4 linked regions of the Homo sapiens genome follow. The main gene of each other region encodes a partner of the protein of the gene in region 4 in a complex. Each region holds a gene or a part of one and is shown on either strand. Other genes may lie near its edges. The genes, in order: LIN9, LIN52, RBL2 and TFDP2.

Region 1 (7,033 bases), on a different chromosome or scaffold from region 4:
ACTACAGAACTATGACAAAACAGTAAATAGTGACCAATATCCCACTCTGATGGACAATAATTAGAAACAGTGTAACTCAATTTGCTCAAACACGCAAAATGATAGCAAAAAGTCACCAAATGGCTACTGTAATTACCAAAGGCCATAAATTATGAGTATGAAACACACTAAATAACATATCAAATTTTAATTTTGTTATTATAAGAAATATTAAAAACATCATCATCAAGGTCATCTTGATGACAGTTTAATTAAAAGTTCTCTCTGTATTTCATCACCATCTAAAGAAATCATTAAATCTAAATTCCATTTCTATTTGTCCAAATCACTTTATATTTACAGACCTTCCTTGAACTTTCCCACCATTTAAAATGAAAAAGTCTTGCACATACTTTTTACCAGGCAGATAGACATAATGTGAGAACTAATGATCTAATTATTCTTCTAACATATTTCCAATTTTCACTCAAAAGTAATATAAGGTTTTCCAATGTGTTACCAGGATAACACTGGAAAAGAAAAAATCATTTCACATGAAGAGCAATTCTCAGGAAGTAACATATTAGATAGATTAATTTGTTTTCTACTTTTATATAAAATAAAATAGGCACTTCTGGGAAGGCTCCTGAGATTATAAAGGATTTCACAAAAGATAACAAAAATGTACACAGAACTTTACAGCATCCTTAAATACTTTTTAGGACATTCTTAAATATTTTTTGGAACACAGAGGGACATAGATAATGTAAAACTAAAAAATTACGTTGAAAACCTGTGATCCTAACAAAAATGAAATTGTGCATTTAATTATAAGATGCATACGTATAAACAGCACCTACATTAAAGTTGGTTAACAGGATATATTTAACATATAATCAATTATTCTGAAAAGTTATGTTTTGGTACTAGTCATTTTAAAGATTAAAAAAATCAATGTACTAATGATACTAACAACTATTATTTATTGATTTTATTTTTTAATTCTTTTTTAGAGGAATGGTCTCACTGTGTTGCCCAGGCTAGAGTGCAGTGACTATTCACAGGTGTAATCACAGCATACTACAGCCCTGAACCCCTGGCCTTAAGCAAATACCCCATCTTAGCCTTCCAAGTAACTGGGATTATAAGTACATGCACTGCTACTGGCTTGATTTTATTTTAAACAAAAACAAAAACATTATTTTTACCTCCGTGGTTTTCCCATAAGCCGCCGAATTTTTCCCCATTCTACTCTTGTTAACTTTCTTGTTTTCAAATTAGGAAAAGATTCCTTTAGACATACACAGAAGTCATTATCACCTTCAAAAAGTGGTCTGTAAAACAGATATAGTATTTTAATGGTTACATACAATGTGTTACTTTCTTAAAACACATAAAATCACAAAATGCTAAACTTTCACTTCTACCCCATATATATATATAAACTGGCACAAATTCAAAGTGCTAAAACTAAATCCTTGGCATTTGTGAAACATCTAATGTCGTGTAAAAGTTGCTCAGGAAATATTATTTGTGTTGTGATTCCAAGAGACACTGATTTTTGTTCAATCTCTTATACAGGTATATCCTTTGGGAGGCTATCGTGGCCCTGGCCTTGTATCAGGTGAAGATAAACCAAGTTAGCTACAAAGTATCTTTGTCCCAAAGGAATACCATCACCAAGGAGTCCTCTTTGGAATTAAACCAGTCTTGGGACACTGGAGGACTCCAGAGGGTTAGATTAGCTTGGGGGATCCCAGAAGAACTCAGATTACACTGAGACACCCTGAAAACTCTCTTAAGCCTATGGACAAAAATAAAACAATTCTATTCATGAGTCTGGGAAACCAGGAACCAGTGTTGGCAATGATACATAAATGCCTTGGGCTCAAATATGAACATTCATGAGATTCACAAGCTCCAGAGTAGGCAATTGGTATAGAAAACAGAGAAGGGAAGAAAATATAAATATCCAGCAGAGCAAGCAGCAATGACTGGCATATGAGGAAGGATTATAAATAAGAACTTTTCCTCAGTAAATTCCATTGTTGAATAATTGTATTTCAGCCAAATCTCATACTACGTCATACTTAAGCATATGTGTATACCTAGCGTGCTTAAGTACCACATCCAAACTAGAAAGACTACCCTCTTAAAAATCTTAAGCCATTTTTACCATTAGTAATGGTTTCTCTATGATTATACCAGCACTTAACATCTCAATTATAAAATGAATCTCATTCACTGCAAATAATGGTGTTTTAAGGTATCTCTACTCCATAGTCTTTAAGAATTCTAACACAGAAATTATACCGTAATCAATTCTTCACAAAAATGTACAGTTTTCTTCCCCAAAAAGGATAACAGGGAAGAAAACTATGACAAATAGAATAGATCCAACTGGAATGTGGAACAGAAAAATGAATTTAGAGAAAAATAAGATCAAAGTAGACCTATAGAAAATGTTGTAGCTTAAAACACTTGAAAAACTTAAATTTCTGATTCAAGTAATATTCATAATATAAGCCATGATACATACTTATCTATATTTGAATAGAACCACTCGTATATACACCATTTATGTGCTTTAGGAAGCTTGAGCAGATTACGTAATCGAAAACCAATCTTCTGTGAAGCTTTCTTATCTGGTGTTGACATTGTTGCTGTAAATTTCTATACAATAAAAAAAAGAGATTAATTTATGGCTCCATTAAGTAAAAATGAACATTTATAACCCTGAATAAATTTGCAAAAGGTAAATTATGTTTAAGTACTTAAAAAGGTTCACTGATTCACTGATATTCAACATGGAATTTTGTTGCTGTTTTAAACACTCCGATTATTTTTGATTATTGCCTTTTTTTTTTTTGACAGTCTTGCTCTGTTGCCCAGGCTGGAATGCAGTGGCACAATCTCGGCTCACTGCAACCTCTGCCTCCCGGGTTCAAGCTACTCTCTTGTCTCAACCTCCCAAGTAGCTGGGACTACAGGCGCACGCCACCACACCCAGCTAATTTTTGTATTTTTAGTAGAGATGGGGTTTCACCATGTTGGCCAGGCTGGTCTCAAACTCCTGACCTCAGGTAATCTGCCTGCCTCAGCCTCCCAAAGTGCTGGGATTACTGGTGTGAGCCACAGCGCCCAGCTTAGATGGATACTTTTTTAACCTAATAAAACATTTCTCCCCACTCCAACCCAAAAACCAGTATCGTAATATTAAAAGACGATGAGAACGACAAATATTTCAACTACCACCACTAACCTAGTATGACAAAGATTTCAACTACCACCACTATTTCATAACACTGTTTTGAAGGAATTGGCCAATCAGGTAAGAAGAATAAAATTTAGAAAGAAGATAAAACTACCATTTCCTTGTAGGTGAAAACTCAAGAAAATCAACTGTAACAATTAAAAACAGTAAGAAAATTTAATGAAATGGGTAAATACAAAGTTGATATACAAAAACCATGATTCAAAAAAATCACTATATGTAAATAATAACTGGACAGGCCATAAGAGTTTATATCCTGTTTATAACAGCACAAAAATGGACATAAACAAAAAAATTAAATATGTAGGAATATACTTACGAAACATGCAAGACTGATATGGAAAAAAATTAAGTCTACTGTGAAATACTATGAACTAAGTGGAACTACAATCAGTTCTTAGGTAGTCTCAATGTTACCTATATATATCATTTCCCATAAATTATAATATTAGTCCAATCCCAGTCAAAATGCCAACAGGATTTTTTTTTCCTAGTCAAGTTGATTCTAAAGTCTACATGGAAAAATAAATGCACAAAAATATTTAGGAAAAAATCTTATGCTGGGCGCAGTGGCTCACGCCTGTAATCCCAGCACTTTGGGAGACCGAGATGGGCGGATCACAAGGTCAGGAGCTCCAGACAGCCAGGCCAATATAGTGAAACCCCATCTCTACTAAAAATACAAAAATTAGCCGGGCGTGGTGGCTGTGCCTGTAGTGCCAGCTACTCAGGAGGCTGAGGCAGAAGACTAGCTTGAACCTGGGAGGCGGAGGTTGCAGTGAGCAGAGATCACACCACTGCACTCCAGCCTGGGCGACAGAGTGAGACTCCATGTCAAAAAAAAAGAAAGAAAAGGAAAAAAATCTCAAAAAAAGAATATGTGATAATATCTTACCAGGCATTAAAACACAGTATAAAGTCATGTTAAACCAATTTTGTGTGTGTGTGTGTGTGTGTGTTTTGGTTTTGTTTGTTCTTTTGAGACAGGGTCTCTCTCTCTGTCACTTAGGCTGAAGTGCAGTGGTGCAAACATTGCTCACTACAGCCTTGACCTCCTGGGCTCAAGCCATCCTCCCACCTGAACCTCCCAAGTAGCTGGGACTGCAGGCATGTGCCACCACACTGGGCTAATTCATGCATTTTTTGTGGAGACGGGCTCTCGCTATGTTACCAGGTTGGTCCCAAACTCCTGGGCTCAAGCGATCTTCCTGCCTCAGCCTCCCAAAGAGCTAGGATTACAGGTATGAGCTGCCATGCCCAGCCAAAATAATTTGATACTAGCACATATAGAGATATGCTAGATGTAGAGATAGAAAGCCTGAAAGTAATCCCAAATACTTATACGAATTTAGCTTTGATGAAGGCAGCATTTTAAATCAATGTTTAAAAAGATGGATTACCCAATAAATGTTACTAGGACAACTAAGTAGTCCTCCGGGGGGGGGGGTGGGGGGGGGTGGGAAAGCTAGGTTGCAATTTTACTTCATCCCTTACTGCAAAATAAATTCCAGATGTACTGAAGGTTCAAACCAAAAAAATGAAATATGAGAGAATTCTAAAATGATAAATTTTAGTGTAGAAAAGGTCTTTCTGAGCATGACAAACTCAAGAAGTCATTAAAAGGTAACAAAGTTACATTTGATCCTTAAAATATTTTAAAATCCCATATGTTAAAAAATACAGAAACAAATCAAAAGACAAACTATAAACTCTAAAAAAAATTACAGCCATTATAAACATCCAAAGGGCCAATATTTTTAATATATACAAAATTCTTATAAACTAGTAACACAATGACCCACAATCCAATAGAAAAATGGGAAAAAGGCATAAACAGTTTACAGAAAAGGAAAGAAATAATTTTTAAACATATGAAAAGTGTCTCAACTTTGCTCTTATATAAAATGCCAACTAAAACAAGTGAGAGGCTATTTCTTTTTTTTTTTTTTTTCTTTTTTTTGAGATGGAGTCTCGCTCTGTTGCCCAGGCTGGAGTGCAGTGGCACGATCTCGGCTCACTGCAAGCTCCACCTCCCGGGTTCACGCCATTCTCCTGTCTCAGCCTCCCGAGTAGCTGGGACTACAGGCGCCCGCCACCACGCCCGGCTAATTTTTTGTATTTTTTGTAGAGACGGGGTTTCACCGTGTTAGCCAGGGTGGTCTTGATCTCCTGACCTCGTGATCCGCCCACCTCGGCCTCCCAAAGTGCTGGGATTACAGGCGTAAGCCACCGCACCCGGCCAAGGCTATTTCTATATATCAGATTAGCAAAAATCTAGATGGTTGGTTCTGTACTGAGTTGGAGGCATTTGGAAAATAGGAACTCTAATATATATAAACCAGTACAATTTCTTTCCTTTTTTTAAAAAAATTTTTTAACACAGCGTCTTGCTCTGTCACCTAGGCTGCAGCATACTGACACGATCGCGGCTCACTGCAGCCTTCGCCTCCCAGGTTCAACCTATTCTCATGCCTCAGCCTCCCGAGTAGCTGGGACTACAGGCACGTGCCGCCACACCTGGCTAATTTTTCTATTTTTAGTAGAGATGGGGTTTTGCCATGTTGGCCAGGCTGGTCTTGAACTCCTGACCTCAGGTGATCTGCCCACCTCGGCCTCCCAAAGTGCTGCTATTACAGGTGTGAGCCACTGTGCATGGTCCCAGTTCAATTTATTCGGAGAGTATTTGGTACTGCTTTAAAAACTTTAAATGTACATAATTTACGATCCAGCAATTCCACATCTTAGGCATCTGTCCTAGAAAAAAACTTGCAAATTTATACAAACATGCTCAGGATGTTCACTGCAGCATTATTTGTCAAAGTAAAAATTTACGAACAATTTAAATGCTCCCAAATGGGAGAATTTATAAATAATGATATAAAATTGAATACTATTCAATAGTAAAAAGAAATGAAACACTGAATCCGATTATCTCAATCAATCAACATGGCCAGATCTCAAAAAAAGACAGTGAAAAAATTACAGAATGACACATGGCACAATACCATGAAAATGATACTACAAATGTAATTTTTAGAATACATACATTTAGAAAAAGAAAAAATATATATACATTTAACAATATTAAATATTTTCTATGAATACATTAAAAGTATATTTAAAAGGTTTCATAAGGATAATCAAACTAATTATAGTGGCTGCCACTGTATGAGGGAAGTACATATTGGAATGGTAAGTTAGGGTCAAAATTTTAAAATTTTTATTATAAACTTTGTATTTTGGAAAAGTTGTAGATTTACAGGCAAGTTGCAAAGATAGTACATATTCCCACATGCCCTTCACCTGGCTTTCCCTAACATCAATATCTTATAGTAACTTTGGTATATTTGTCAAAACTAGTGCAATACTATTAACTAAACTACAGGCTTTATTTGGATTTTACCAGTTTTTTCACCAACATCCTTTTTCTGTTCCAGAAACCAATTCAGGATACCACACTGCATTTAGAAAAATAACTTTGTTTTTCTTTGTTTTCCCTCAGTGACCATTCTCAGGAGAAAAAAAAAAATTAAATGTAAAAAGAAGAAAAAAGAAAAAATTTATAAGTGAGGAGATGTTTAGCATAAATAACCAAATTACTATAAAATATTCTTATCACAAAAAGTGTTATTTCTTTCTACTACATTATTGACCCAGATTTTTAAATAGGGTATATAGGGTATTAGCAGCTCATCGAATATAAAACTATATTAAGGACCCGCCTGTTGGGTATGGGAAAATAGATTCAAATTGTTAGAGGGAATCTTCTATTGACTGATT
Region 2 (7,033 bases), on a different chromosome or scaffold from region 4:
GACTCTGTCTCTACAAAAAAAATTTTTTAATTACCCAGGCACGGTGGTACATGCTTGTAGTCCCAGCTACTTCAGAGGCTAAGGTGGGAGGATCACTTGAGCCCAGGAGTTGAAGATCAGCCTGGGCAACATAGTAAGACTCTGTCTATTTAAAAATGAGATAATAACCTGAAGGGATTTCAATATACTTTTACTGTATAAAGAAAAATCGGCCGGGCGCGGTGGCTCACGCCTGTAATCCCAGCACTTTGGGAGGCCGAGGCGGGCGGATCACGAGGTCAGGAGATCGAGACCATCCCGGCTAAAACGGTGAAACCCCGTCTCTACTAAAAATACAAAAAAAATCAGCCGGGCGTAGTGGCGGGCGCCTGTAGTCCCAGCTACTTGGGAGGCTGAGGCAGGAGAATGGCGTGAACCCGGGAGGCGGAGCTTGCAGTGAGCCGAGATCCCGCCACTGCACTCCAGCCTGGGCGACAGAGCGAGACTCCGTCTCAAAAAAAAAAAAAAAAGAAAAATCATTTGTTACCTAGTAAATCCAGTAATTATTCCACCACACTCCACCATAAAAAGTCAATGAATTAGATTGACTTCTTACCTTCAGAATGCTTCTCTTTTCCCTAATATACTTTCTGAATTATAACTGGAGCTCAGGGTGGAATACCTGAGCTCAGGGTGGAATACACAGCTCAGGGTGGAATACACCCCTGAACAAATGCGATCGGGGTACTCACACTCATCCAGCCCCAGCTGATAGGCTAGGTTCTGTAGGCCTCGAACCTTCTCCATCAAATTAGCCGTGGTGAGACTCCCCAGTTCTGAAACAGAATCATTTATTTCAACATCATTTCTTTCCACTCTTCTCTAGTAGCAACTTCCTTGGGTTGGGAACTCTTGTTATACAAGTTTTCAAGCTTAATTACCACTGAATAAGTAGAAAATGGATCCGTAACTCCTCCCCCAATCTTAAACACACACAAATCAGGGAATTTTCCCACTATTGCAAAATTCCTCAGATAAGCTTACCCACTTAATAAGAAAAGAACTAGCATAAAAACAGAATTAGCTGGGCATGGTAGCACATGCCTTCAGTCCCAGCTACTTGGGAGGCTATGGCAAGAGGATCACTTGAGCCCAGGAGTTCAAGACCAGCCTGGGCAATGATACCTCACCTGTATAAAAATAATGCAAAAATTCAGCCAGGCATGGTGGCTCATGCCTGTAATCCTAGCACTTTGGGAGGCCAAGGCGGGCAGATCACCCGAGGTCAGGGGTTTGAGACCAGCCTGGCCAACCTGGCGAAACCCTGTCTCTACTAAAAATAGAACGATTAGCTGGGTGTGGTGGCAGGCGCCTGTAGTCCCAGCTACTCAGAAGGCTGAAACAGGAGAATCACTTGAACCTAGGAGGCAAAGGTTGCAGACAGCTGAGATTGTACCACTGCACTCCAGCCTAGGCAACAAAGTGAGATTCCTTCTCAAAAAAAAAATATAAATAAAATAAAATTAGCTGGGTATGGTGGTGTATGCCTGTAGTCCCAGCTACTCAGGAGGCTGGGATGGGAGGATCACCAGGAGGTCAAGGCTGTAGTGAGCCATGATGGCACCACTGCACTACAGTCTGGGTGACAGAGTGAGACCTTTTCTCAAATAAAAAAAGAAAAAAATAATAAAGTAACAAATTAAGTGATTCATCCTCAGGAAACATTATTTATAACATTTGTTTGGAATACATCATTAAAATGTAAAACCTTGTCTTTTGATAGCATTAAGAAAGCCTTGAAGACAGATCTGATCTGACAAAATGGACACTGTCTCCACTGTTAATTGTAAGTCCACATTATTTCGACTTATAATAAAGTGGCAACAAAACACTTACTATTCCCCATTTCCCTAAGTTTAGAAAACAAAGACTAAATAAAAATCTAAACTTTCCCTTCAAATCAAATTCCTATAAAAATCTTTAAGTTTACTAAGTAAAAAGACAGCATACTGTTGGAGGTTAGGAGCAAATGGAGTTGGTTAGGTCAGATCTCTTTCACCATCACAGTTACAATTCTGCAATGGCAGTTTCACTGTTGGGTGTTTCTGTGCTTGAGATATTTTGCAGGCCTTGCATTTGATGGATCAGTTGGTACCACCCAGATCAATAAACTGGTTCATCTGATCTTGTGGCCCCCACCCAGGAACTGACTCAGTGCAAGAGGACAGCTTTGACTCCCTGTGATTTCATCTCCAGCCCAATCAATCAGCACTAGCAACTCACTGTCCCCCCAACCCACCAAATTATCCTTAAAAACTCTGATCCCCAAATTCTCGGGGAGACTGAGTAATAAAAAAAACTCCAGTCTCTTGCACACACATACACACACACACACACACACACAAAGACAATACTTAAAAATGTTCTTTCCTGAATTTTTATTTAAATAGCACCCAATTCCTTTTAGGTTTAAGACACAGGTCAGTTTGCATAGAATATAATGCTATGATCCCTCACTAAAAATTTAAAGTTGCCTTAAGAAATACATGCTGATGAGATATTATATAAATGTCTGTTTGAAACATTAGAAGAATGAACCTGAGATGCCCTTGAGACTTAATTTTTCCATGGCAGGAGGAGGGAATCTGCATTTAAGCATTTCATAAAGAACAATGAATTACTTCTAAAATCAAATAAAGGTGTTTTTTTTTAATCTCATTTATCATGCCACAGTCATTATCTACACCTAGCATAAGTAGACTTTCTTGATATGTTCAGCTGTTTAAATACCTCAAGAATCCCAGGTTTTTACCTTAATTTCAGTCTATTACTTCACAATCATCATGAATCTTATCACCAGAAGGATGATAAAATAAATAAAGTAGGGCAAAATCATGGAAAATTAATGTTTTTTAATTTAAATTTCCACTTTGTGATTGAGTTTCAAATCATTTATCAAACAACAATATTCACTACTTATAGTATTCTTTATAGAAGAAATTGATGGGATAAAAAAATAAAAAATAGGTCTTAACCCACTAAGAGGTTGTCATTTAATAGTACTGACAATATATGGCAGTAAATTCTAAATAAGGCACTTGTGTTATAATGGAAAGAGGCTAGACTTAAAAAAGCAGAGTTTACGCGGGGCGTGGTGGCTCACGCCTGTAATCCCAGCACTCTGGGAGGCCGAGGTGGGTGGATCACTGGAGGTCAGGAGTTTGAGACCAGCCTGGCCAACATGGTGAAACCCCATCTCTACTAAAACTACAAAAATTAGCTGGACGTGGTGGGGGATGCCTGTAATTCCAGCTACTCGGGAGGCTGAGGCAGGAGAATCGCTTGAACCCAGGAGGCGGAGGTTGCAGTGAGCCGAGATCGCACCACTGCACTCCAGCCTGGGCAACAAAAGCGAGACTCCGTCTGAAAAAAAAAAAAAACCAGAGTTAAAATTTTTTAACTTTTTTTTTTTTTTGAGATAGAGTCCTGCTCTGTCAGCCAGGCTGGAGTGCAGTGGAACTATTGTTCGCCACAACCTCTGTCTTCTAGGTTCAAGTGATTCTCCTGACTCAGCCTCCAGAGTAGCTGGGATTACAGGAGCTTGCCACCATGCCTGGTTGATTTTTGTATTTTTAGTAGAGACGTGGTTTCGTTATATTGGTCAGTCTGGTCTCAAACTCCTGACCTCCAGTGATCCACCCACCTCGGCCTCCCAAAATGCTAAGATTACAGACATGAGCCACGCCTAGCCAAATTTTAACTCATTCTATCTTGGTTAACTTATGAACTTTGAATATCATCATACCCAACTCACAGGACCTTTATGGGAATTAAATGAAAAAATTTATGTTAGAGCTATTCGTTAACTGTATTATACAAAATCAGGTTCACATTAGAAGAATTTAGCACCAGCAGCAGAATTCACTATGACTGAGTCTTGAATTGGCAGGATTTCTACACATGGAAAAGGTAGAGAAGGGCATTGCAGACATGAAAAACTACAAATAAGGAGGTTTAAATGAGAAGTCTGAAGCCAAAAATACTTGTAAGGAAACAGAAAAAAAAAATAGAGAGGTGGTCTATGGAAAAACATAAATATCCAGTTAAAAGTGGTAACTAGCATCACTTACCTTTCAACATGTCGATGTCATCACGTTCTATCTCAGCCATCCATTTGGGTGGAGAACTAGTAATAGGCTGTCAAAAAATAATATATCCATTCAGACACATAAAAAGTGTGAGGAGACCCTATTATTCTTATAAGAAGTGTAGCCTGGGCCGGATGCGGTGGCTGCCAAGGTGGGCGGATTACTTGAGGTCAGGAGTCAGGAGTTCGAGACCCGCCTGGCCAACATGGGGAAACCCCATCTCTACTAAAAATACAAAAAAAATTAGCCAGGCGTGATGGCACACACCTGTAATCTCAGCTACTTGGGAGGGTGAGGCACGAGAATTGCTTGAACCTCTTGAATGTGGGAGGCAGAGGTTGCAGTGAACCAAGATTGTGCCACTGTACTCCAGCCTGGGTAAGAGTATTACTCTGTCTCAAAAAAAAAAAAAAAAAAGAAAAAGAAAAAATGCAGCTTGTCACATAGCCTTCAGGTTGTTTGGAAATACTGGCAGATTATAATTTCAAAAACCTGGATTTCTCCAGGTTTAGATATGGCCTACAAATAGTCACTGCAAAAAACATGGCTCATCTTGAAAGTCAGTCTCAGAGAAATCACTGTGGAAGAATAGGTATGACCACTATTACTGATTTATGCCTAACAAGTTAGTATAGCAATGAATGAAATTACTTGAAATTCAGTTCTGGTGAAAGCCTCCAATTCAACTGTTTGAAACACTAATCAGTAAGTAACATTCTCTGGCATACGGGAGATTCAAAGAAGAATCAAGAATGAGAAAATCATCATTTTAAGTGAGAGAAGTCTGGAATGGTCATCACTTGGAATTTCACAATTTTATTGTAGAGGTTTTAGGAAACTTCAGAATTTTACAATTTTTCATTTATGAAAGTGAACTTAAAACTATGAAAGAAAGCCCATTCTTAGAATAGCTCTGGGTTGGCAGTTTAATGCTAGTTGCACACGAGAATCACCTGTGTAACTTTTAAAACTATAAATGCCTTGGCCACACTCCAGACATAATGATTTAGAATATGAGGGGTAGGGAAGGGTCCAGTGGAAAAAGTAGAGCAAGGGACTCCTCATATGTGCTTTTCTTTTTTTATATTTAATTAATTTTTTTCTTGGTGCTCATTTGTTACAGTGCATTTTTCAAGAGCTCCATAGCTGCATGTTGATGATTCTGTCATGCACAAAAGGTAGGGTTGAGAAACATTATTTCAGCTTTGCGTCTTTCTCTTTTTTTAATTAAAATGTACTCAGAACCTATTATGTGACAAGCAAAACACTTTACATGCATCAAGTCATTTACCTCCAAATCAACTCTATAAAGTAGGTATTTTTTTCACATTAAAAAAAACAAAAAAACAAAAACACATACATTGGCTCACACCTGTAATCCTAATGCTATGGGAGGCTGGAGCAGGAGGATCACTTGAACCCAGGAGTTCAAGACCAGCCTGGGAAATATAGTGAGACCTCTTCTCCACAAAAAATTTTAAAAGGCCAGGCGCGGTGGCTCACACCTGTAATCCCAGCACTTTGGGAGGCTGAGGTAGGTGGATCACTTGAGGTCAGGAGTTTGAGACCAGCCTGACCAAGATGGTGAACCCCGTCTCTACTAAAAATACAAAAATTAGCTGGGCGTGGTGGTGGGCACCTGTAATCCCAGCTACTCAGGAGGCTGAGGCAGGAGAATCGCTTGAACTTGGTAAGTGGAAGTTGCAGTGAGCCGAGATCGTACCACTGCACTCCAGCCTGGGCGAAGAGTGAGACTCTGCCATAAATAAAATAAAATAAAATAAAGAACAGAGATCTGAGCTTTTACTCAGGAGCGAAACTTTGGATTGACCTCAGTAGGTAAGGGATATTACTTACACTTTTGAAGGAAGCTGCAAATTCAGCAACACCTGGTACTAAAAAGAAAAACAAAACTTTATTTATTCAATAAGTATGATTGCTCAGGCATAGAAGATCCAAATAATAAGAAAACAGCTTTGTCTGTTTTCTTATAGTTTAGAAGAAGAGAAAGAATAAACCAATAACTATAACACTGTTTCAGTCCTCAAAGAAAGATGCCAGGACTATGGCAAGACAAAAAATGGCAAGCTAAGTCAGACCCAGGGGGCATAAAAAGCTTCTCAAGGAAAATAATGCCTCAACTGAACTTGGAAGGACCAGGAGTTAGCTGGTTGGGAGGGTGGTAAGATACAATATCTCTTACCAGAAAGTTTAAACTGCCTTTTTAGAGATGCTGTTCTGTCAATCCAATTTTATTTATTTAAATTTCTCACAGAAAGAATCACATTAAAATGCAGAAAAATAAAAATCAGGGCTGGGCATTTTGAGAAGTCAAGGCAGGAGGATCCCTTGAAGATCAGCCTGGGCAACAGGGCAAGACCCCAGACTCTACAAAAAATTAAAAAACGGGCCGGGTGCAGTGGCTCATGCCTGTAGTCCCAGCACTTTGGGAGGCTGAAGCGGGTGAATCACTCGAGCTCAGGAGTTGGAGACCAGCCTGGGCAATATAGTGAAACCCCGTCTCTACAAAAAATACAAAATTTAGCCAGGCGTAGTGATGTGCCCCTGTAGTCCTAGCTACTTGGAAGGCTTGAGCCCGGGAAGTTGAGGCTGAAATGAGCCATGATCACACCACTGCACTCCAAACTGGGCAACAGAGGAAGACCCTGTCTCAAAAAAAAAAAAAAAAAAAACAGTTAGTTGGGCATGGTAATGCACACCTATAGTCCTAGCTACTTAGGAGGCTGAGGCAGGAGGATGGCTTGAACTCAGGAGTTGGAGGCTGCAGTAAGCTATCATCGTGACATTGCACTTTAGCCTGGGTGATAGGATGAGCCTCTGTCTCTAAAAAAAATATATAATTAAAATAACATCTTTGCCTGAGCTCAGGAGTTGGAGACCAGCCT
Region 3 (5,711 bases), on a different chromosome or scaffold from region 4:
TGGGGACCTTGAGGCTTAAGTAAGTATTTTTCTGAATATAATGCTAAAGGTAAGTTGCATTCATTTAAACTAATAGAGCAGACAGAATTCAGCACTACTTAATAGTTTATAAATCAGTGGTTTCAGTTGTATATATGTTAGGAAATGGAGAGGTATAGAGAGAGCAGGTTCCATAGCTCAGCACTTTTAAGTGGAAGATCATTTGAATCTCAGTCTTCAGCCTGCACTGATTTGTAGCCTGCACTGTCTTACTGATTTACAAACTGAAATCACTGAGAAATGTCTTTAGTTCAGTGAGAAGAAACCAGAACACTTGTTCCTAGTGTTGTGTTGTTTTTTTTAAGCAAATTACTTACTGTATTTTTATGGCAGGAGGGAGAAAAAGTGTTACAACGGTTTCTAATGAAGTCCGGTATTTAAATGATAAATGACTAATGTGTTTAGTAGAGACAAAATAAACCAATAAATGATTGTTCTTTGCCATTTATGCAGGAAACTACCCTTTTCTCAATATAACCAAACAAAGGCTAATTTATAAATGCTTTATTGAAAAATACACTTATCTTCATATAAAATTACAGTAGCAGTATCTTGAGAAGTTTTATAAATATTTTTGCAGAACACTATTCTAATTGAACAATGTAAGTTCCATATTTCTCTCAGCAATATGAAGTTACCTAGTAACTTTGTTTATACTGATTCAATTTACAATTGAATTTTCTCCCTAATAAGATTATTAATTTGACTTGAAAACTGCTGGAACAATAGTGATTAATAAAGATATGTATAGATAATTCAGCTGTTAAATAACATTTTCTAATTTGTATAAATGGTACTATGGTACTAATAAAAACCTAAATTCTCCAACCAATTTTTTTAAACTGCCAGGAACACCCAAAAATATTTTTAAATATATCACCTTAATAGACATTTCTTTTAGATAACTCCCTCCTAAAGGAAGAGGTCATAAGTTTTCATATTAATCCCCTCAATTCAACTTGATTAAAATCTTTTCTTAGCTGGTTGATCCCTATATAACAAAAAACTGGAGAATTTAAAACATTCCCAAAAGGTGGCTATAGGGGTTTTAACATTTTAAAAAAATATAAAAGCATTAAAGAAAATATTGGATGTTTAGCCTGGAAGTTTTGTATTTAATAAAGTTCACATTGTAGAAAGTGCTATCACAAATATACAGCAAAATCTGGGTTACAAAATCATGCATTTTACAGCCCTAAAGTGCCTCCACTTATACAGGTTCACTCAGACATTGCACACCCGAACAATCAAGGACTTTTCACACTGCACCACACCGAATGGGGAGAGGGAAGATGTGCACAAAGGGAACGGGAGACGAGGGCTAATGACCTAGGACCTCCAAACCTGGGTGTGCTCTCCTTTGTCAGGAATGCAAAAAATCACACACTCCTACCAGGTGTTTTAGGACAAAATACCTAATTTTTGTTTTGCTTTTTATGAGGACTACAGCTGACCACAAAACAGGTAGGATTGAACTTGAAACACAGTTCTTCTGTTGGAGTACGTCAACAGAAGCCTCCTATGCTCACGTTTGGGTACACATCATTTTCTTGCAGTATTTCTAAAAGCTTTGCCAGAGTCAAAAATCCAAGTTTGGATTCTAAGCAGCCTTGACAGTAATCACTGAATGGTAGGGAAAAAAAGACAGTTGGGATGAATTAAAATGTTCTAAGGACACTGGAAGGAGTTAAGTCCCATTTCTCACCAAAATGTCCCCTCATGTTACTAACAGGCTGTAACTCATCAGCTGGATTAAGGAAAAAAGCTCCATAATCTAGATGCATTAAAGGCTGCTGCTAAACAGATTTTGTGAAGAGTTTAATACAAGAGACTAACCTCAGTGGGAACCACGGTCATTAGCTACATCTTGGAGACGGCGTAATAAGGCAGAATGATTTTCTGGGCAAATTCTTTTTGCAGGTGATTCACTTCCATCTTCCAAAAGAATTCCTCTCTTTTTAGTAGGAGTTTCTCCTGTGCGTATCATACTATTAATTTCTCTCAGTCTCTATGGTGGGAAAAAGATACAAAAATTTTAAAATGCAAATGCACATAGCTCAGTATTAAGTCAAAGAATCTCAAATGAGTTAAGCAGTTTACCCTGGAAGAGTTTGAACACATCTACAGAGAAAAGAAACACTAAGTTACATAACCTGCCAACTTTACTTTTCAGCTGGCTGAGGCCGATGGCTATTTGAGAAGGGGCTGAGTAGTTCTATTTTTAACAAGCTCTTCCACAGGCACTTTTGACCTGTAGGTCAATTATACATGTCTATAATTTGTGAGTTCACAAATTTGTGATTTTTTTTACAATTAGGGAGCATTACATTGCTATCTGATAGTCACTTAGACACATCTTTTTCTCTTTTTTAAAGTACAACTTTATACAATATTCCCTTTTTTTCAGTCTAATGTTACTCAGTTTTTAGCAGCCATTCTCAACTGGGATTTCACTAGAAAAGTAGGCCTTAATCCCCCCCTAAGGTATCCATTGTAGCTAATAAATTAGTAAGATCTAGAATGGTACTATCCTTGGGAGAATTGAGGATTAAAGTTACTCAAATTATTTTCTGGACAGTGGCTCAGATGAGGAGCTGCAATTGAGAAAGACACTGCCAGAATGTCAGAAAGACTGGGGCTGGCTGTACAGCACCTTTAGCATTCAGTTTCTCCAAAGCCTCTAAAAGTCGTCTGTCACATTATTTTCTGCTAGTTTGTTGGTTAAAATTCTTTTTCATGTGCTGCTTCATCCATGTTTGCTTACAGAAAGCATACTAAGCAAATTCACAGATATCTATTATAGGAAATTGTAAACATACAAAAGTAGAGAAGCATAATGCATCCTCACATACCTATTCCTCTACTTCAGCATGTTTGGCCAGCCTTGTTTGATTTATACTCTGATTCACTTCCATTCCCCAGATTATTTTAAAACAAATCCCAGACATATTTTATCATGACACTTGTTATTTTTATTCTTTAAAGTAATAAATGTTTTGGGGGTTTTAATGAAAATCAGTGTTCTTTATTATCAACAGATGTACCTTCACAAGTGTTTTTCATTTTTTTTTTTTTTTTAATTAACAATAGAAATGGGGTTGCACTATGTTGTCCAAGCTGGTCTTGAATTCCTGGGCTCAAGCAATCCTCCTGCTTTGGCCTCCTAATGTGCTGGGAACAGGCATGAGCCACTGCACCTGGCCACAAAATCTTAAGCATCTGAAGAAAGCTTTCCTTCAATTCTTTTTCTAGCCCCCTTTCTGCCTTCCTAAGAGTCTGGTCTGCATTTGCTATCTCTGCAGTCTCCCATTTGCTTGAATATTTCTTACACTGTTTACTGTATACATTGTTAATTGTGTATAAGCAATGCTACCATAATTTATTTTTCAACAAGTCATACCAGTGCACTGACACTGCTCTGTCAAGTATCACTAATGATCAGTCTTCATCTTAACTGATCTTGTATAGTATTTGATAATTATTTTCTCATAGTAGTCTAAATGTTAGTACGTTATAGATTGGTTCTAGACATAAGCTACTTCTTGCTTTGTAATATTCTCCCCCTTCTTGCTTTGTAATATTCTCCCCGTAAGTTTCAGCTATCACCTATTACGTCAAGATGACAAATCTTTCTCCAACCAAGAGTCTAATAATCGCTATCATTTTACTGGACAGACTCCCAATTCTGTGCTAGAAATACCTACAGTCGGATAAAACTGTTCCTCTGAAAAAATCCCTCATACTCCCTTGTCAGCCTATCCCAAACCACCACTGATGTTCTTGTCCAATAGTTTTGCCTTTTCCACAATGTCACAGAAATGGAATCATAAGTAGCCTACTGAATCCAGTGTCTTTCACTTAAGCATTGATGCATTTGAGATTTATCTACATTGAATATATCAGTTCCTTTTTATTGCAAAGTAGCAGTCGATTGTCTGGATGCACCACAGCTTATTTATATGCATTCACCAGCTGAAGGACGTTTGGGTTGTTTCCCACTTTTTGGCAATTAGGAAGAAAGTCACTATAAACAGTCATGTACGTGATTTTGTCTAAACATAAGTTTCCATTTCATTTGTGTAAATACCTAGGAATGAGATTGCTGGTTGTATAATGGTATGTTTAAGAAACAACTTTCCACAGTGGCGATGCCATTTTGCGTTCACACCAGCAATATGTAAAATTGTTCCACATTGTTGTCAGAACTTACGATTTGTCACTTTTTGGATTTTAGCCATTCTAACAGGCATGTAATGGGTGAAGTGTGTTCAAATCTTTTGCCCACTTTTACATTTGGTGGTTTTCCTACTGAATTTTGAGAATTCTTTAGATACTGTAGATATACAAATGCTTCATCAGATATGGAACGTGTACAGATTTTCTAATAGTCTATGGCTGGTTTTTTAATTCTCTTAACAGTGTCTCAAATAGCAGAAATTATTCATTTTGATAAAATCCATTTTAACAGTATTTTACGGATTGTGCTTTTGATGTTGTATATAAAATTTTCCCATAAAACATGTTCACTAAGATTTTCTGTTGTCTTCTAGAGGTTTTGTAGTTTGAGATTTTACATTTATGTCTGTGGTTCATTTTTAGTTTTTGTATATAGTGCAGGGTATGGGAACAAGTTTACTATTATTTTGTTATATGCACATCCAATTGTTCCAGCACCATCTGTTGAAAAGGCTATCCTTTCTCTACCAAATTGCCTTTGCACCTTTGTTGAAAATCAGTTTACCATACATGTGTTGTCTATTTCAGGACTCTGTTCTGTTCTATTGATCTCTGTGTCTATACTTCCACCAACACTACTGTCTTGATTACTGTGGTGTTATAATACAGATATTTTGTGTACCTTCATAATTAGTGTGAATCCTCCACCTTTGAATTATTTTAGCTATTCGAGTTCTTTGCCTTGTAAATGACAAATTTTAGAATCAGTTTTTTACATAAATCTGTTTGGATTTTGACTGAAATTGGTTTGAAATTATAGATCAATTGGGAGAAAACTGCTGTTTTATTTTCCATGAATTGGAAACTAAGGTATTATTTTCATTCAATGTCATGAACACATTTCTGTATCTTCTCAGGCTTTAATTTCTCTCACCAAGCTTCTATAGTTTTCAGGATATATGTGTTGCATAGTTTTTATCATACCTACCCCTAAGTAATTTTAAAATGTTATGGTATTCAATTTTTTATTTTACTTCTGATTGTTCACTGCTAGCATATAGAAATACATTTGATTTTTGTATGTTGATCACATAACCTCCCTTATTAGTTCCAGTAGCTTTTTGTGGATTCTTTGTGATTTTCCTATGTAGACAATCCAGGCTGTATGGCTTTTCTTGTCTTATTGCACATGCTAGGACTCCCAGTTACAATGTTGAACAGGGGTAGTGAGAGTGGACATTGTTGCCTTGTTCTTGATCACAGGGGCAAGGCATTCAGTCTATCACCATTAAGTATGATATCTGTAGATGCTTTTGGTAAATGTTTACCAAGCTGAGGAAGTTCCTTGAGAGTTTTTACATTAATGAATGTTGGATTTTGTCAGATGCTTTCCTTCAAACACTAAGATCATTTATCACCTTCACTTTTTGGGAGAGTTTCTATAGAATTGGCATTATTTCTTCCTTAAATGTTTGGTAGCATTTACCAATGAAGCC
Region 4 (7,033 bases):
CTTGTAAGGCAGGCCTGGTGGTGAAAAAATCTCTCAGCATTTGTCTGTCTATAAAGGATTTTATTTCTCCTTCACTTATGAAGCTTAGTTTGGCTGGATATGAGATTCTGGGTTGAAAATTATTTTCTTTAAGAATGTTGAATAATGGCCCCCACTCTCTTCTGGCTTGTAGGGTTTCTGCCGAGAGATCCGCTGTTAGTCTGATGGGCTTCCCTTTTTGGGTAACCTGATGTTTCTCTCTGGCTGTCCTTAACACTTTTTCTTTCATTTCAACGTTGGTGAATCTGACAGTTATGTATCTTGGGGTTGCTCTTCTCAGGAGTATCTTTGTGGTGTTCTCTGTATTTCCTGAATTTCAATGTTGGCCTACCTTGCTAGGTTGGGGAAGTTCTCCTGGATAATACCCTGAAGAGTGTTTTCCAACTTGGTTCCATTGTCCCCGTCACTTTCAGGTACACCAATCAAACACAGATTTGGTCTTTTCACATAGTCCCATATTTCCTGGAGGCTTTGTTCATTTCTTTTTACTCTTTTTTCGCTAAACTTGTCTTCTCGCTTTATTTCATTAATTTGATCTTTAATCACTGATATCCTTTCTTCCACTTGATCAAATCGGCCTTTGAAGCTTGTGCATGCCTCACGAAGTTCTCATGCCATGGTTTTCAGCTCCATCAGGTCATTTAAGGTCTCCTCTACACTGTTTATTCTAGTTAGCCATAACCTTTTTTCAAGGTTTTTAGCTTCCTTGCGATGGGTTAGAACATGCTTCTTTAGCTCAGAGAAGTTTGTTATTACCAACCTTCTGAAGCCTGCTTCTGTCAACTCATCAAAGTCATTCTCCGTCCAGCTTTATGCCGTTGCTGACGAGGAGCTGCAATCCTTTGGAGGAGAAGAGGCACTCTGGTTTTTAGAATTCTCAGCTTTTCTGCTCTGGTTTCTCCCCATCTTTGTGGTTTTATCTACCTTTGGTCTTTGATGTTGGTGACCTACAGATGGGGTTTTGGTGTGGATGTCCTTTTTGTTGATGTTGATGCTATTCCTTTCTGTTTGTTAGTTTTCCTTCTAACAGTCAGGTCCTTCAGCTGCAGGTCTGTTGGAGTTTGCTGGAGGTCCACTCCAGACCCCGTTTGCCTGGGTATCAGCAGCAGAGGCTGCAGAACAGCAAATATTTCAGAACAGCAATTATTGCTGCCTGATCCTTCCTCTGGAAGCTTCGTCCCAGGGGGGCACCCACCTGTATGAGGTGTCTGTCGCCCCCTACTGGGAGGTGTCTCCCAGTTAGGCTACACGGGTGTCAGGGACCCCTTGAGGAGGCTGACTGTCCATTCTCAGAGCTCAAACACCATGCTGGGAGAACCACTGCTGTCAGAGATGTTTAAGTCTGCAGAAGTTTCTGCTGCCTTTTGTTCTGCTATGCCCTGCCCACAGAGGTGGAGTCTATAGAGGCAGTAGGCCTTGCTGAGCTGAGGTAGGCTCCGCCCAGTTTGAGCTTCCTGGCCGCTTTGTTTACCTACTCAAGCCTCAGCAATGGCGGACACCCCTCCCCCAACCCGGCTGCAGCCTCACAGGTCCATCTCAGACTACTTCGCTAGCAGTGAGCAAGGCTCCACGGATGTGGGGCCCGCCAAGCCAGGCACGGGAGAGAATCTCCTGGTCTGCCAGTTGCTAAGACCATGGGGAAAGTCCAGTATTTGGACGAGAGCGTCCCATTTTTCCAGGTACAGTCTGTCACGGCTTCCCTTGACTAGGAAAGGGAAATCTTCTGATCCCTTGTGCTTCCTGGGTGAAGTGACGCCCTTCCCTGCTTCGGCTCACCCTCTGTGGGCTGCACCCACGGTCCAACCAGTCCCAATGAGATGAACCAGGTACCTCAGTTGGAAATGCAGAAATCACCCATCTTCTGCATCAATCACGCTGGGAGCTGCAGACTGGAGCTGTTCCTATTCGGCCATCTTGAACGAAGATCTATTTAATTTCTTTTAAAGTCAAAAGAACATAGGCCAGGTGTGGTGGGTTAAGTTTGTAATCCAGCACTTTGGGAGGCTGAGGCAGCAGATCAGTTGAGGCCAGGAGTTCAAGACTAGCCTGGCTAACATGGCAAAACCCTGTCTCTATTAAAAATACAAATATTAGCCAGGCATGGTGGCACATACCTGTTATCCCAGCTACTTGGGAGGCTGAGGCACAAGAATCACTTGAACCCGGGAGTCGGAGGTTGCAGTGAGCCGATATCATGCCACTGCACTCCAGCCTGGGTGACAGAGCAAGACTCTGTCTCAAGAAAAAAAAAAAGTCAAAAGAGCATGAAATATGTTGCAAAAGGACATATAGGTCTTAAATAAAATATTTATGTTGCAAAGAAGTTAAGATACTCAAAAAACTGGGGATAGAAGGAACACACCCCAACATAATAAAAGCCATATATGACAGACCCACAGCTAGTATCATACTGAATGGGGAAAAACTAGAAAGCCTTTCCTCAAAGATCTGAAACATGACAAGCATGCCCACTGTCACTACTGTTATTCAACAAAGTACTGGAAGTCCTATCTAGAGCAATCAGACAACAGAAAGATATAAAGGGCACCCAAATTGGAAAGGAAGAAGTCAAATTATCCCTGTTTGCAGATGATGCAATTTTATATTTGGAAAAACCTAAAGACTCCACAAGAAAAGTATTATTAATAGAAGTGATAAACAAATTCAGTAAAGTTACATGATACAAAATCAACATACAAAAATCAGTAGCATTTCCATATGCCAACAGTGAACAATGTGAAAAAGAAATTTTAAAAGTAACTCCATTTACAACAGCCACACATAAAATTGAATAACTAGGTAATAACCAAAGAAGTGAAAGATCTCTGTAATGAAAACTATAAAACACTGATCAAAGAAATTGAAGAGGACACCAAAAAAATGGAAAAATATTCCATGTTCATGGATTGAAAGAATCAATATTGTTAAAATGTCAATACTGCTATCAAAGCAATCTACAGATTCAAGGCAATCCCTATCAAAATGGCAATGACATGCTTCACAGAAATAGAAAAAACCATCCTAAGATTTATATGGAACCACAAAAGACCCAGAATAGCCAAAGCTATCTTGAGCAAAAAGAACAAAACTGGAGGAATCACATTACCTGACTTCAATTATACTACAGAGCTATAGTAACCAAAACAGCATGGGACTGGAATAAAAACAGACACACAGACCAATGGACAGAACAGAGAATCCAGAAACAAATCCACACACCTACAGTTAACTCATTTTCCACAAAGATGCCAAGAACACACACTGGGGAAAAGACAGTCTCTTCAATAGATGGTGCTGGGAAAACTGGATATGCAAATGCAGAAGAAAAAAACCAGACCCATATCACTTGCCATACACAAAAATCAAATCAGCCTGGGCAAGGTGGCTCACGCCTGTAATCCCAGCACTTTGGGAGGCCAAGGCGAGCAGATCACTTGAGGTCAGGAGTTCAAGACCAGTCTGGCCAACATGGTGAAACCCCATCTCTACTAAAAATACAAAAATTAGCCAGGCATGGTGGCACATGCCTGTAGTCCCAGCTACTTGGGTGGCTGAGGCACAAGAACTGCTTGAACCTGGGAGGCTGAGGTTGCAGTGAGCTGGTATCAAGCCACTGCACTCCAGCCTGGGCAACAGAGCAAGACCCTGTCTAAAAAAAAAAATCAAATCAAAATGGATTAAAGACTTAAATCTAAGACCTTAAACTGTGAAACTACTAGAAGAAAATATTGGGGAAAATCTCCAGGACATTGGTCTGGGCAAGAATTTCTTGAGCAGTACCCCACAAGCACAGGCAACCAAAGCAAAAATAAACAAATGGGATCACATCAAGTAAAAAGTTTCTGCACAGCAAAGGATACAATCAACAAAGTGAAGAGACAACCCAAAGAATGGGAGAAAACATTTGCAAACTACCTATCTGACAAGAGATTTATAACCAGAATATATAAAGAGCTCAAGCAACTCTAGGAAAAAAATCAAATAATCCCATTAAAAAATGAGCAAAAGATCTGAATAGACATTTCTCAATAGAAGACATACAAATGGCAAATAGTCATTCGAAAAGGTGCTCAACATTGCTGATCATCGAAGAAATGCATATCAAAACTACAATGAGCTATCATTTCACCCCAGTTAAAATGGCTTATATCCAAAAGACAGACAGTAACAAATACTGGTGGGGATGTGCAGAGAAGGGAACCTTCTCAAACTGTTGATGGGAACGTAAATTAGTACAACCACTACAGAGAACAATTTGGACGTTCCTCAAAACACTAAAAATTGAGCTACCATATGATCCAGCAATCCCACTGCTGGGTATATAGCCAAAAGAAAGGAAATCAGTATATTGAAGAGATATCTGCATTCCTATGTTTGTTGCAGCACTGTTTACAATAGCTAAGATTTGGAAGCAACCTAAGTGTTCGTTAACAGATGAATGAATAAAGAAAATGTGGTACATACATACAATGAAGTACTATTTGGCCATAAAAAAGAATGAGATCTATGGCCAGGCACGATGGCTCACATCTGTAATCCCAGCACTTTGGGAGGCCAAGAGAGGTGGATTGCTTGAGGTTAGGAGTTCAAGACCATCCTGGCCAAAATGGCAAAACCCTGTCTCTATTAAAAATACAAAAATTAGCCAGGTGTGGTGGCACATGCCTATAATCCCAGCTACTTGGGAGGTTGAGGCACAAGAATCACTTGAACCCAGGAGGTGGAGGTTGCAGTGAGCCGAGATTGCACCACTGCCAGCCTGGGCAATAGAGCAAGGCTCTGTCTCAAAAAAAAAAAAAGCGGGGCAGCAGGGGTGGAGGGGTTTGAATTTAAAAGGACAGTAAAGAGGAAACAGAAAAAGGGAGTTGGAAAGTACTATGCTCAGAAATCAAATTCTAATTAGATTACAGCTTATGCCACTAGGAAAGAAAATACTTAGTTATTTATTTATTCCTATTTATTTATTTATTTATTTAGAGATAGGGTCTCACTCTGTTGCCCAGGCTGGAGTGCAGTGGCACGATCACAGCTCAATGCAGCCTTGACTTCCTGGGCTCAAGAGATCCTCCCACCTCAGCCTCCTGAGTACCTGGGACTATAGGCACATGCCACCAAGCCTGACTACTTTTTGTATTTTTAGTAGAGACAGGTTTCACCATGTTGCCCAGGCTGGTCTTGAGCTCCTGGGCTCAGCAATCCGCCCACCTCGGCCTCCCAAAGCACTGGGATTATAGGCGTGAGTCACTGCACCTCCCAGAAACGACTTTTAAAACATACATGCATTTTTAAAACAAAGATAACTTTGGCTGCCATACATAAGGACCAGAGACAGAAAAGGACTGGAAGAAGGAAGGTTAACAGGAAGCTATTACTGCAGTACACTAAAGAAGGAATGGTGGCAGACTACGGTAATATTAACAATAGGAGGAATGGAGAGAAATAGATGTACATTACCTTTTTGCTTCAGGCATTTTTATTAAGAAAAATTCTCTTCCGATGGCTCAAGTAAAACAAGCATTGATATCTTGTGCAAAATGGGCATTTAATAAATTTATCAATGAACTGGAGGAAATGAAAGCTCAATATGAACATGAAGATAAAAGACAGTTCCTAACTACTCTAAGTAAACCTTCAACAAGGTATATTGCTCCAAATAAAATTCCACACAGCTGTTGGCAATCATTTAGGAACTATGGTGAGCAGGAGAGGTTGCCAGAAGACTAAAGACAGAAAAATGTAGTACTCGTGTTCAAAAAAAGAGAAATGGGATCCTGCCAACTATTGATCACTGAAGTTAGATGTAATTTTAGACATGATTCTAGCATCATTACTAAGAGAAGTTTGTGAACACTTAGAAAAAGTAGTAATCAGTGCTCCCTTAGTAGCACATATACTAAACGGGAACAAATCAGAGATTAGCATGGCCCCTGTGCAATGATGACACACAAATTCTTAAAGCATTCCACATTTTTACTTGAATTAAAAAATCCTTTTCTCATACAAAAATCAGCCGGGTATGGTGGCAAGCGCCTGCAGACCCAGCAACTCGGGAGGCTGGAGAAGGAGAATTGCTTGAATCCAGGAGGCCACTGCACTCCAGCCTGGGTGACAGAGAGAGACTCTGTCTCTAAATAAATAAATAAATAAATAAATAATCCTTTTCCGAAAAAAAAGACAAAAAAGTAGTAATTAACATATGCTACTGGAATATAGTATAGTTTCACTAAGGACAAGTAATGATAGGGTAAAGAAAACGAAGCATATAAAATCTGGGTTTTAGTAAGGCAACTGTCAAAGTTCCTCACATATTCCTTATGAGAACTTGGAAACATATGAGGTAGATGATGATTAAAATTAGCTGAATTTCTAATTGGGTGACCAACCTGAACCAAAGAATTAATAATAAAATTTTTTATCACCTTTAAGAGAGGTCTTTAGCAGGTAAAGAACTCTGACCTCAGCCCTGCCTAGACAGCATTTTAGTGAAAAATTTGCATGAAAGCAATGCCAAAATTATCAAACTTGTATGTTTATCAAATGCATAGATTTGATATTTATTGGATGACCAAATCAGGATTTTTTTAATGTCAACAGACTAGAAGCAATCTTACAAAATAAAAATATAGATACATGTAAAGTCCTACCAAAAAATATTCTATTAAAGAATTGAGAGAGTATGACTTTAAGAACAGAGAGAGCATGAACAAAATAATTCAACAATTTTAGTTGACAAGGAAACCAATAGTAAAATAGGTATCATACATACATAGTACTGGGATGCCACAACCCATTCTAAATGACTTATATATATATATTAATTATCTTCAGAATTGTGTAAGATAGACACTATTATTAACCCCATATTAGAGATGAGGAGACTTAGGCCCAGAGTGTTTACATAACTTACTCAGGGTTACCCAGCTGATAAACTGCAGAGCTAGGATCTAAACACAGGAAGGTTAGCCCCAAAGTTAATCTTCTTAACTAGTAAATT

The links.
Region 1: TFDP2 (region 4) and LIN9 share a complex: the UniProt entries of both Homo sapiens proteins name them as parts of the DREAM complex.
Region 2: TFDP2 (region 4) and LIN52 share a complex: the UniProt entries of both Homo sapiens proteins name them as parts of the DREAM complex.
Region 3: TFDP2 (region 4) and RBL2 share a complex: the UniProt entries of both Homo sapiens proteins name them as parts of the DREAM complex.

The regions. Positions count from the first base shown.
Region 1 is NC_000001.11:226,285,146-226,292,178, forward strand, and holds part of LIN9 (protein lin-9 homolog), read right to left. Parts: intron 2,653-7,033; coding exon 2,519-2,652; intron 1,314-2,518; coding exon 1,188-1,313; intron 1-1,187. UniProt on the Homo sapiens protein: Acts as a tumor suppressor. Inhibits DNA synthesis. Its ability to inhibit oncogenic transformation is mediated through its association with RB1. Plays a role in the expression of genes required for the G1/S transition.
Region 2 is NC_000014.9:74,094,937-74,101,969, reverse strand, and holds part of LIN52 (protein lin-52 homolog), read right to left. Parts: intron 6,023-7,033; coding exon 5,985-6,022; intron 5,308-5,984; exon of another isoform or gene 5,251-5,307; intron 4,177-5,250; coding exon 4,110-4,176; intron 1,826-4,109; exon of another isoform or gene 1,763-1,825; intron 816-1,762; coding exon 732-815; intron 1-731.
Region 3 is NC_000016.10:53,486,466-53,492,176, reverse strand, and holds the end of RBL2 (retinoblastoma-like protein 2), read right to left. Parts: intron 2,048-5,711; coding exon 1,877-2,047; 3' UTR 529-1,876; downstream 1-528. UniProt on the Homo sapiens protein: Key regulator of entry into cell division. Directly involved in heterochromatin formation by maintaining overall chromatin structure and, in particular, that of constitutive heterochromatin by stabilizing histone methylation.
Region 4 is NC_000003.12:142,139,545-142,146,577, forward strand, and holds part of TFDP2 (transcription factor Dp-2), read right to left. Parts: intron 1-7,033. UniProt on the Homo sapiens protein: Can stimulate E2F-dependent transcription.